3 linked regions of the Homo sapiens genome follow. The protein of the gene in region 1 purifies or fractionates together with the protein of each later gene. This does not show direct contact. Each region holds a gene or a part of one and is shown on either strand. Other genes may lie near its edges. The genes, in order: PIANP, AKT3 and PRUNE1.

Region 1 (2,419 bases):
CAGCCGGGGACAGGTCTGTCAGTGGCTGCTGGCTCTCCTCCTGCCTCAGGGCACCTTGCTGCCCTGAGGGTCTGCGTCGCTTCTGGCTGCGGTCCCAGCTGGGGTACCAGAGGAAAAGAGGTTCTCTTGCACACTCAAGTAGCCCCCATCCTGGGCCTGCACCAGTGGTCACCCCCAGCCTCGCCCAGTCACTCCCAACATCTTATAGCAGAGAAACTGGCCTTTAACAGTTCTCTCTACTAAATCCCCTGGGACTCTGTGCCCATAAAGCCACTTCCCCTGCCCTCTAGGGGAGCTTGGTAATCTAAACCTCCTTACCCTCCAAACCTGATCCAGATCGACAAAATTAATATCCCCTCCCCACCACCACAATGTCCTCTCCCCTACATGCCCAGAAGAGTCATTTCTGTCTTCAGCAGACAACTGGCAGGTTTAGTTCTAGTTCAAAGCAAGCTGATGACTTGGACACCTGAGTCTAATGATTCTCTCAGTAAAGTGTGAAGGACTGAGTGATCCATTATTAAATGTGTGCAAAGAAAGCTCCAGGTTTTCTTGCTCCCCCCAGGCAACCCTAAGAAGGGCTCTGCAGACTGGGTCAGCTTTCTCTGTCTTGGAGGAAGTAGGGGCAGGGGAGGCTCACCAGGAATGCACAGGAATAATTCCCCTGCCCTCCCTTATCCTTGTATTTCCCTGGGAGACAGAATCTGCCCTGATTTCTCACCGTCTTCCCCCAGCCAAATCCTTAATTATCTTTTCCCAAGGTCTTGCCTTCATCCAGCATTTCCCACCCACCCCCCAGCAAAATTGCTGCCACTGCCCCTCGTGGTTAGAGCCTCGACTGCCAAACATTCCGTCCCCATCCACCAGCACCTTCCTCCTCCCAGCTTACCAGAACTTGAAGATGATGCCAGTGGCCACGAGAACAATGATGATGGAGATGGTAATTGTGACATAGAGCTGGGGGTCCACACCTGATTGGGGTGGGAAGAAAGTTTTAGGGAGCCCCGAGGTGGTAGGAGCCAAGAGGGGCTGGGGGCTGGGCTGTGGGCTCTGTCGGCTGGAGTGGCATTGCTGTGTGGATCCACACTGCCGGCTCTGTCTGCCCCTCTGGAGCCTCACTCTTTATTATCACCAGCATTCCCCTGAGTTTTCAGCTCTTTTCCTCCACTTTCCCAAATGTATTTCACCAAATCTTATGTGTATATGTGATGAGGATGAGGCCCCATGATCAGCGAGAACCTATCACTATGCCTGGAAACTAAGGGGTGGAGATGTCCTAGTCTCTGCCATGGCCCAACTCCCAAACCACAGGCCCTGTTCCTCCATCAGCACTCCCTGAGCCAAGACATCTCCCGGGTAGTGCCCTTCATTCATGGCATTCTCTGCCCAGAATACTCCCACTCTCTTTTCAAGGGCCAGCTCAAATGTCAGTTCTCTGAAGGTGTCCTGATCCCCAAGCAGGAGGAGACTCTCACTTCTCTTTTTTTGTAAATCATGCTGCACATGCCTCTATTAAAGCATTTATTACGATGACTCCTCTCCAAGTCCTTTCATGTCTGTCTGCTCCAGTGGACCTGAACTCCGAGAGGGTGTCTTTATCTCTGCATCCTGTGCCAGTATAGTGCCTGACACATTTGTTGAAGGAGCTAACAGACAAGGCCTCTATTTCTGCCCCTTGGTGTCTTCACCCAGCCTCCCCATCCGTCATATCCCTCCCAGCCTTTCCCACTCACCTTCCCCACGGCCCCCGAACAGGAATGGCCGCAGGGTGGCAGGTGCCTCTCCAAGGATAAGCCCATCTCCATCACCTCGCATGGAGTCTGAGTTGGGGTGTGGGGTTGCGAGCCCATGAGGGGCTGCAAAACCATAGTCCAGAAATCCGGGATTGGCAGAGTTGGGGTCCCCTCCATCCTCTCGAGACACGGTGGGACCCCACACGATAGCCCAGGGGTATTGGGATGAGGGCGGCCCCTCCTCAAAGCCTGATGGGGTGGCTGGGGGTGCAGTGCCAGGCAGGACTTGCCGACGTGATCTTGGGACCCGAGGAGATCGGCTTGGTGGAGGTGCTCGCTCCCACACGCACACATGACGTGGGGCCGAGGGGCCTCCCCTGGCACACGGGGGGCGGGCTGGGGCTGGTGGGGTTCGAGGGGAGGATGAAGAGCCCTGAGCAGGCGGTGGGAGGGGCAGCAACAGCAGTGGCCAGAGAGGGAGGAGGTGGGACAGCAGCAGCGCAGGCCTGCAAGAAGGGAGAGAGCGTGGCTGAGACACAGGCCTACTGTGGGCCTATGTGAGGGAGGGACAGGTTCACACCAGAAACCTCCAGGTTTCCCTGTGAAAGCAGGTGGGCCTTGGGAAGACTCGCCTCATTTCCCATCTTCCAAAGGAGGATGGCCCTCAGGATGGGAAGGCTCTGGAT
Region 2 (3,657 bases), on another chromosome or scaffold:
CCTTCACCTTCTGCCATGATTGTGAGGCCTCCCCAGCCATGTGGAACTGTAAGTCCAATAAACCCCTTTTTCTTTATAAATTATGCGGTCTCAGGTATTTCTTCATAGCAGAATGAAAATGGACTAATAATAGGTAAAGAAATTTCAGTGTTTTCTGGCTTATTCAGTTTAATATAGTATATATTACTAAGCATAAAAGAACTAAAAGTGAGAAATAGGAAGAACAGGAGGAAAAGAGGGGAAAAGAACAAGGAAAGGAAGATAAAATAAACCTATTTAAATCTGAATTTTATATAGTAGGCTTTATTTGGACTTGTTCATTATTAGAAATGATATGTGCTGGTAAGTGCTTAACAACCAGCTCTCTGTGAGCAATCATGCATTTATACAAATATAATTTTTTTTCTTTTTTTTTTCAAAGGCACAGTAGATACCAGATGCTCAGAGCAGAGCAGCCATGGAGCTGCTGGGACCAAACCTTGCCTGACCTAGCCACCACCACACCCCAGACATATAAATTTAAATTTTACTGATATAAAGAATGCAAAACACAAAATTTACAAAGATCATAAAACATACAATGTTGTGTATTGTAAATTAGTCACCTGATTCTCACAGAAAACTTGTTAATTTCTGCTGTACGCCAAAGCCACTAATGGATGAAACTTACGATTAGTTCCAACATGAATATTGGTTGACATTTTTGTTTATGTTAAAGTCAAAGCTGAAAGTGATACAATGGAGACTTCAGAACTTCACTTGTCAGTTATGTGAGTGATTTCTTTGCTAAATGTTTAGTAACTTTGGGATGGTGGAAGAAGATTCATTTTTTGGTGCTATTTACAATGTAATGAATCTGCATTATTAATATTTTCTCTTAAGTCTAAACAGTCAACAAAACAGTAAGTGCAGCCCCAACTCATAGTATTTGCCAATTCTGGCGGTATAAATTCTTCCACTGTGGCCAGTTTCGAGCTACCAATAAGATGTCACTGAACATGTAGGCAGGAAGAGATGCATAGTAGCAAACCATTATATATTATGTCCAAACAGATACAGCAGACATAACTAATCTCAAAAATACAGATAACAGTGAAACATAACAAATTAAGGAGTAATGACTTTTTAGTATTTATGACCTTTGATTTTCCTATTATTAGTAAATTTATATAATTTTTAGTAATGACTATAATATACAACCAGCTCATAAAATTGGTGAAAATTTAACAGTTGGTTCTTGAGAGCTGGTATATGCTAACTCCAAAACACCACTGGGTTGGAAGAAAACCAAATACGTCATAGAAAACAAATACAGATGCTCCTAAACTTAATGATGGGTTATGTCTAGATAAGCCCACATTTCAACTTAAGATGGTTTTATCTGGATGCAATTCCATCATTAGTTGAGGAGCATACTAAATACGCATCAGTTTCGCACCATCATAAAGTCAAAAAATTGTCAAGCCATCGTAGGTCAGAAATCATTTATAATTATATAATTCTAATGAATTCTGGTTATTAGATCTAAGAAACACATGACTGGGAAGGACCTAGTATCCTTTGACACACAATTAAAATGGAAAACAGTCAACTGATACCTGAATATCTTTAGTGATGATAAATAATTCCCACCAGCTGGGTCTCCAACTCCCAGATCCTTATAGAATTCTCTAAATGAACTATACCCCAGAGATGGCACTTTTAGGTTTGATCATAATAGTGCTGTTCGATGTTTGCATTTGGAATTTTCAGACTGGTAGTTCTGTGTTCAGTGAGAGCTCAGCATTTCAGACCCTGCCCTCTTTTTCATTCTATTTCAGTTGTGTAGGTTTCTTTCCCAGGAGACTGCAAACTCCTTTGAAGGCAAGATCAGTGCTGGATTATCCAAAAGGCATTCTAAGCTTGTGCTTGGGGAACCAGAGAAGCAAAAGCACCAAAACACGTTTCTGAAAAGCATTTAATATTTTCAAGCATGCGTCAACATAGTCTGCATGAGAAACATCAAAGCTCCATGGCATTTTCTTACACTTATGTTGTAGTTTATTTCAATACTGTTTTCATTTGAATTGTACTTGAGATGGGAGTTGGAGTGGAGAATCATAATCATTTTGTAAATAAAATGTTTTAATCCAGCTTTAGTTATCCATTTTTGTAACTCCTCAAGTTTTCTAGCAATACTTTGGTTTTGAACATAGCCAGCATTTATTCTATATTTATCAAATACATATAAAACTAAAATATCAGCTATGAATACTATGCAAAGTCTGAGAATACAATCAGACTTCCATTTTAGAAGCTAGGAGAAATTCTTTAACACACTTCTTCAATGTGTGAAACTGTCAAAAATTTCAGTGTCAATGACTCTCTAATATACAATTTAAGACTTCAAAAATAATAACAAAATATGCTTTGAAGTAAGATATTTATGTCTAGAATACTAAACTCCAGTATCAGAATGCCAGACTAAATCCTCAGCTACTACAAATTCCTTTACTATTAGGAACATCACAGAATTCACATTTTCCTAATGTTACTGAATACATGAGGTCATGCTTTTCCTATCAACTCCGCATAGGAAGATAAAGGAGGGGCTAACAGAATGAACAGAAAGGATGGAGACTAAGAAATAAAAGCAAAATGATAGTTGACCCTTGGATAGAACTAACAGCAATTCAATAAGAAATACCAGAAAAATTCCAGTAGTATTTAAAATAGCTGCGTAGAAAAAATGAAGAGGTGTATTATAATGCTATCATTACTTATGTTTCCAAAGGCTTTTCAAGGTCCTTGTTAGCTTTCTTTTCTTTCTCCCCCTGAAACTGAGGTTCCCTAAGATTCTGTCCTAGGCCCTCTTCTCCTTATCCACTACCCTTGCCACTACTGCCTTGGCTCTAGCTACCTCCTAGATATAGTTATGGTTCCCAATCCATGTAGTCAGTTACTGTGTTTCTTTTAAGCATTCATTCTATTATTTCCAGCTGCTCACTTGACATTTCCATCTTGGTTTTATATAGAAACTTCAGACTCAGTGTACCCAAAGTTATTATCAACATCTAGCCCCATCAAGCCTCCTTGGTTTGCATACCCTGTCTGTTAATCACCCTAGCTGGAAACCTCAGAGGGATTCCTAACTCCTCCTACTTCCTCATAGTTTCTAGTTAATCATAACCTCTATCACTTGTGTACTACTGCTTCAGGAAGGAATCCATCTATTATCTGAACAATTCCATAAATATTCTTTTTAAAAAAAAGACAGGGACTCACTCTATTGCCCAGGCTGGAGTGCAATGGTGTCACCTTGGGTCACTGCAGTCTCGACCTCCTGGGCTCCAGCGATTCTCCCACCTCAGCCTCCCAAGTAGCTGGGACTACAGCATGTGCCACCATACCCAGCATTTTATTTTTTTTTAGTAGAGATGAATCTTGCTATGTGCCCAGGTTGGTCTTGAACTCCCGACCTCAAGTGACCTTCTTGCCTCGGCCTCCCAAAGTGCGGGGATTACAGGTGTGAGCCACTGTGCCTGGCCCCATAAACACTTTTAACTGCTCTGCCTGCCCCTGGATCCTCACTCATCTAATCTGTCCATGACAAAGCTGCCAGAGTTACCTTTTCATGACACAAATCTGATTATACTATCCCTTGCTTTAAACACTTAA
Region 3 (3,657 bases), on another chromosome or scaffold:
CCTTGGATAATGTAGTGTGTGCAGTTCTCAGGCATGAGGCAGGAATCAGGAGCTGGCTCTCCTTAGAAATTTGCAGTCCTGGCATCAGTATTGTTCCTGTTTTCTCTGCTGAGAGGGTTTGTCTCTCTCTGGCTTTCTGTCTCGTTTATTTTTCTCCCCCATTAACTATTCTGAAGAGTAGTTATCATACCATATTCAGCTTTAGAAGGGAAGTGGTTTACTTTGCCAGGCCTAGAATCCCCTCCCTGCCCCCTCCTCTTGAGGCCACAAAGAACATATCAGGATAAGAGAGTCATTTCAACTAGTGGGTGTTTATTCATTTATTTATTTTAATTAATTAATTTTTTTTTTTTTTGAGACAAAGTCTCGCTCTGTCACCAGGCTGGAGTACAGTTGCATGATCTCGGCTCACTGCAACCTCCGCCTGCCAGGTTCAAGTGATTTTCCTGCCTCAGCCTCCCGAGTAGCTGGGACTACAGGCATGTGCCACCATGCCCAGCTAATTTTTGTATTTTTAGTAGAAACGGGGTTTCACCATGTTGGCCAGGATGGTCTCAATCTCTTGACCTCGTGGTCGGCCCACCTCGGCCTCCCAAAGTGCTGGGATTACAGGCGTGAGCCACCGTGCCTGGCCAACTAGTGGGTCTTTAAAAAAAAGAAAAAAGAAAAAAAGTTTGTATTTATTTACTTGTGGCCCTCAGATTGTATTTTTTCCATTGGCAGCTTAGATTTCCTCATGCTGCTAAGTATAGCTGTATTTTCCCTGAACTCTTTCTCTGATGGTCAGAAAACTGAGGCTGTTTGGCTTGTGCTTTCAGCTGGTGGAGGATGGGCTTGGAATTAGGGGTTACACATGTTTTTCTTAAATAAAGAAGAGAATGATGTCTTATAAGTTGGGCAGCCCCACACACGGTTTGCCCAGGGCAGTCTTGGTTTTCCCCTGTGTAATCATTAATAGCACCCCTTTTCATTCTCATAAGCGTCCCAGTTTGAACAATCAAATATATAGTCACCCACCACATAAGCCATGTTAAGGATCAGGGATACATGACCATGAAAAGACAGGGAGCTCCTTAAGATAGAAGTTAAGGTCTGTCTCAGAGCCACAAGTGCTAGAAGCTGGAGGTTTAGAGGAAGAGGATTTCTCTGGGCTGGGTGTTCAGGAAGGCTTCACAGAGAAAGACATTAGGTAGACTTGAACAACGGGGAGAAGTAAAGAAAGAAGATGGGAGATCACATCTTTACTATTTACAGCGTAGGCACTTATGGTACTATCTCATTTAATCCTCCTAACAACATCATGAAATTGGTTACGATATTATTCTCATTTTTTTTGTTTGTTTTTTTGAGATGGAGTCTCACACTGTCACCCAGGCTGGAGTGCAATGGTGGGATCTCGGCTCACTGCAACCTCCGCCTCCCGGGTTCAAGCAATTCTCCCTGCCTCAGCCTCTGGAGTAGCTGAGATTACAGGCACCTGCCACCACACCCGGCTAATTTTTGTGCTTTTTAGTTTCACCATGCTTGCCAGGCTGGTCTCGAACCCCTGACCTGAGGTGATTCGCCCACCTTGGCCTCCCAAAGTGCTGGGATCATAGGTGTGAGCCACCGCGCTCGGCCTATTCTCATTTTTATATGAGGAAAATGAGGCTTAGAGGGTCCAAAGTCCTGCAACAAGTAAGAAGCAGAGCTGGAATTCAACCCCAAAGTCTGTGATCTTTTCAAATAGTAGTTCTGCATTCAAACAGAGAACAAATAGTGCAAAGGGCAGAGCTGGGAATGTGCACATCATGGTTTGCGGGTGGTGAATAGTCCAGTCAGGCCGGGGTGACAGTGGGTGTTGACAGGGGAGAGGAATGCTGCTGCCTCCCTTGGTCACTCCAGTTCCAAGATTTGCTACAAGTCCCAAAGTATTCCTTTTGTATTCATTCCTTTTGGTTACTGTCTAGGTTTGGCTGAGCGCAAGGGGTTCATTGTTCACCTTCCTCTGTAGATGGTTTCTCCTGACTTCAGAACCATACCACTGTATTTGGTCCCTACTTTGTGCTTTTCTGCTTAGCATTCTCTTCATGGTAAGGATCTAACTGAACCTGATTCAGCTGCTGCTTGCAGTGAAGCAACACTGATGTAAATAAGCGTGGAAAGGTTCTCCAGCATCTCTTTGGACCCTGCAGTAGGTCTCTCCTGCTTGCTCTGCCTTTTCTCCACTGCTCTTATGTTTTTCCTCCAGTCAGGGCCATATGCCTCATGTTTATATAGTTTCCTCTCTAGAGAACACTCGCTCCCCCTAACTGCTTCAGTGAGCAAGTTATTTCTGCAGCCTCTTATCTCAAGTGCTTTGCTGTCACTTTGGTCCACAGCCATTTGGGCAGTTCTTGGTCTCCAGGAAACAGAGGTCTCTGGTATCAGGAGGAGGAATTACAAGTCAGAGGAGTTACTATAGGACTGGGGTATTGGGTAGAATTCTTACTGCTTTGGAAAAAAGTAAAGAATCCCCCTACCCCAGTGCTGTTCAGTATGAATGGGCCTTTGCTTCCACACTTTTTTTTTTTTTTGAGACAGAGTCTCGCTCGGTCACCCAGGCTGGAGTGCAGTGGCACGATCTTGGCTCACTGCAACCTCCGCCTCCCGGGTGCAAAAGATTCTCCTGCCTCAGCCTCCCGAGTAGCTGGGACTACAGGCACCCGCCACCACGCCTGGCTAATTTTTTGTATTTTTAGTAGAGACGGGGTTTCACCAGGTTAGCCAGGATAGTCTCGATCTCCTGACCTTGTAATCTGTCCGCCTCGGCCTCCCAAAGTGCTGGGATTACAGGCGTAAGCCACCGCGCCCGGCCTGCTTCCAAACTCTTGAAGTAGACTTAGAGAAATAGGCATGGGGAGGACCTCAGGGCAAACTTCTTTAGGGGCCCTTTGGGCAGAACCCGGACAGATAACCTCTGTCTTCTGTATTTCTCTCCAGGGATGGGAGTAGGAGATGGCGACGAGGGTGGTTTAAAAACAAAAACCTATCTCGTAACTGGATGGGGCAATTGATACCACCAGAAGTCTTCTAAAATTGCCCTTTTTGAGCTGTGGCTTTCCAGTGGGGGAAGAGAAGAGTGATAGCCTGTATAGGGAAGATGATTCTAGGTTTCCCTAGATTCCCTTTTTTTCTTAAAGTTACATTAGTTGATAACTATTCTTTGCTATGTGTTACTCCTCTGAACCTTCCCACTTTGCTAAACTCTTGAGTCTAGCAAATCTTCCCTGATTGAAGAAGTCAGACTATATGGATTTTCACCTTCTTGTAACCCAGTAGTTCTCAACTGGGGGCAGTTTTGCCCCCCAGGGAACATTCAGCAAGTCTGGAGACATTTTTGTTTGTCACGACTTAGGGTGCTACTGGCATCCATGTGGGTAGAGGCTAGGGATCCTGCCAAATATCCTATAATGCACAGGACAGCCTCCACAAAAAAAGAATTATCCGGCTGGGCATGGTGGCTCATGCCTGTAATCCAAGCATTTTGGGAGGCCGAGGCAGCTGTATCACTTGAGCCCAGGAGTTCGAGATCAGCATGGGCAACATGGTAAAACCCCATCTCTACAAAAAATGCAAAAATTTGGCTGGGCGTGGTGGCTCACGCCTGTAATCCCAACACTTGGGGAAGCTGAGGCG

What was found.
Region 2: the proteins of PIANP (region 1) and AKT3 purify together in Homo sapiens (affinity purification with mass spectrometry; 2 studies listed by BioGRID and IntAct, with this or other methods). This does not show direct contact.
Region 3: the proteins of PIANP (region 1) and PRUNE1 purify together in Homo sapiens (affinity purification with mass spectrometry; 2 studies listed by BioGRID and IntAct, with this or other methods). This does not show direct contact.

The regions. Positions count from the first base shown.
Region 1 is NC_000012.12:6,695,554-6,697,972, forward strand, and holds part of PIANP (PILR alpha-associated neural protein isoform b precursor), read right to left. Parts: intron 2,240-2,419; coding exon 1,734-2,239; intron 972-1,733; coding exon 890-971; intron 99-889; coding exon 1-98. UniProt on the Homo sapiens protein: Acts as a ligand for PILRA in neural tissues, where it may be involved in immune regulation.
Region 2 is NC_000001.11:243,546,198-243,549,854, forward strand, and holds part of AKT3 (RAC-gamma serine/threonine-protein kinase), read right to left. Parts: intron 1-3,657. UniProt on the Homo sapiens protein: AKT3 is one of 3 closely related serine/threonine-protein kinases (AKT1, AKT2 and AKT3) called the AKT kinase, and which regulate many processes including metabolism, proliferation, cell survival, growth and angiogenesis.
Region 3 is NC_000001.11:151,011,443-151,015,099, forward strand, and holds part of PRUNE1 (exopolyphosphatase PRUNE1), read left to right. Parts: intron 1-3,657. UniProt on the Homo sapiens protein: Phosphodiesterase (PDE) that has higher activity toward cAMP than cGMP, as substrate. Plays a role in cell proliferation, migration and differentiation, and acts as a negative regulator of NME1. Plays a role in the regulation of neurogenesis.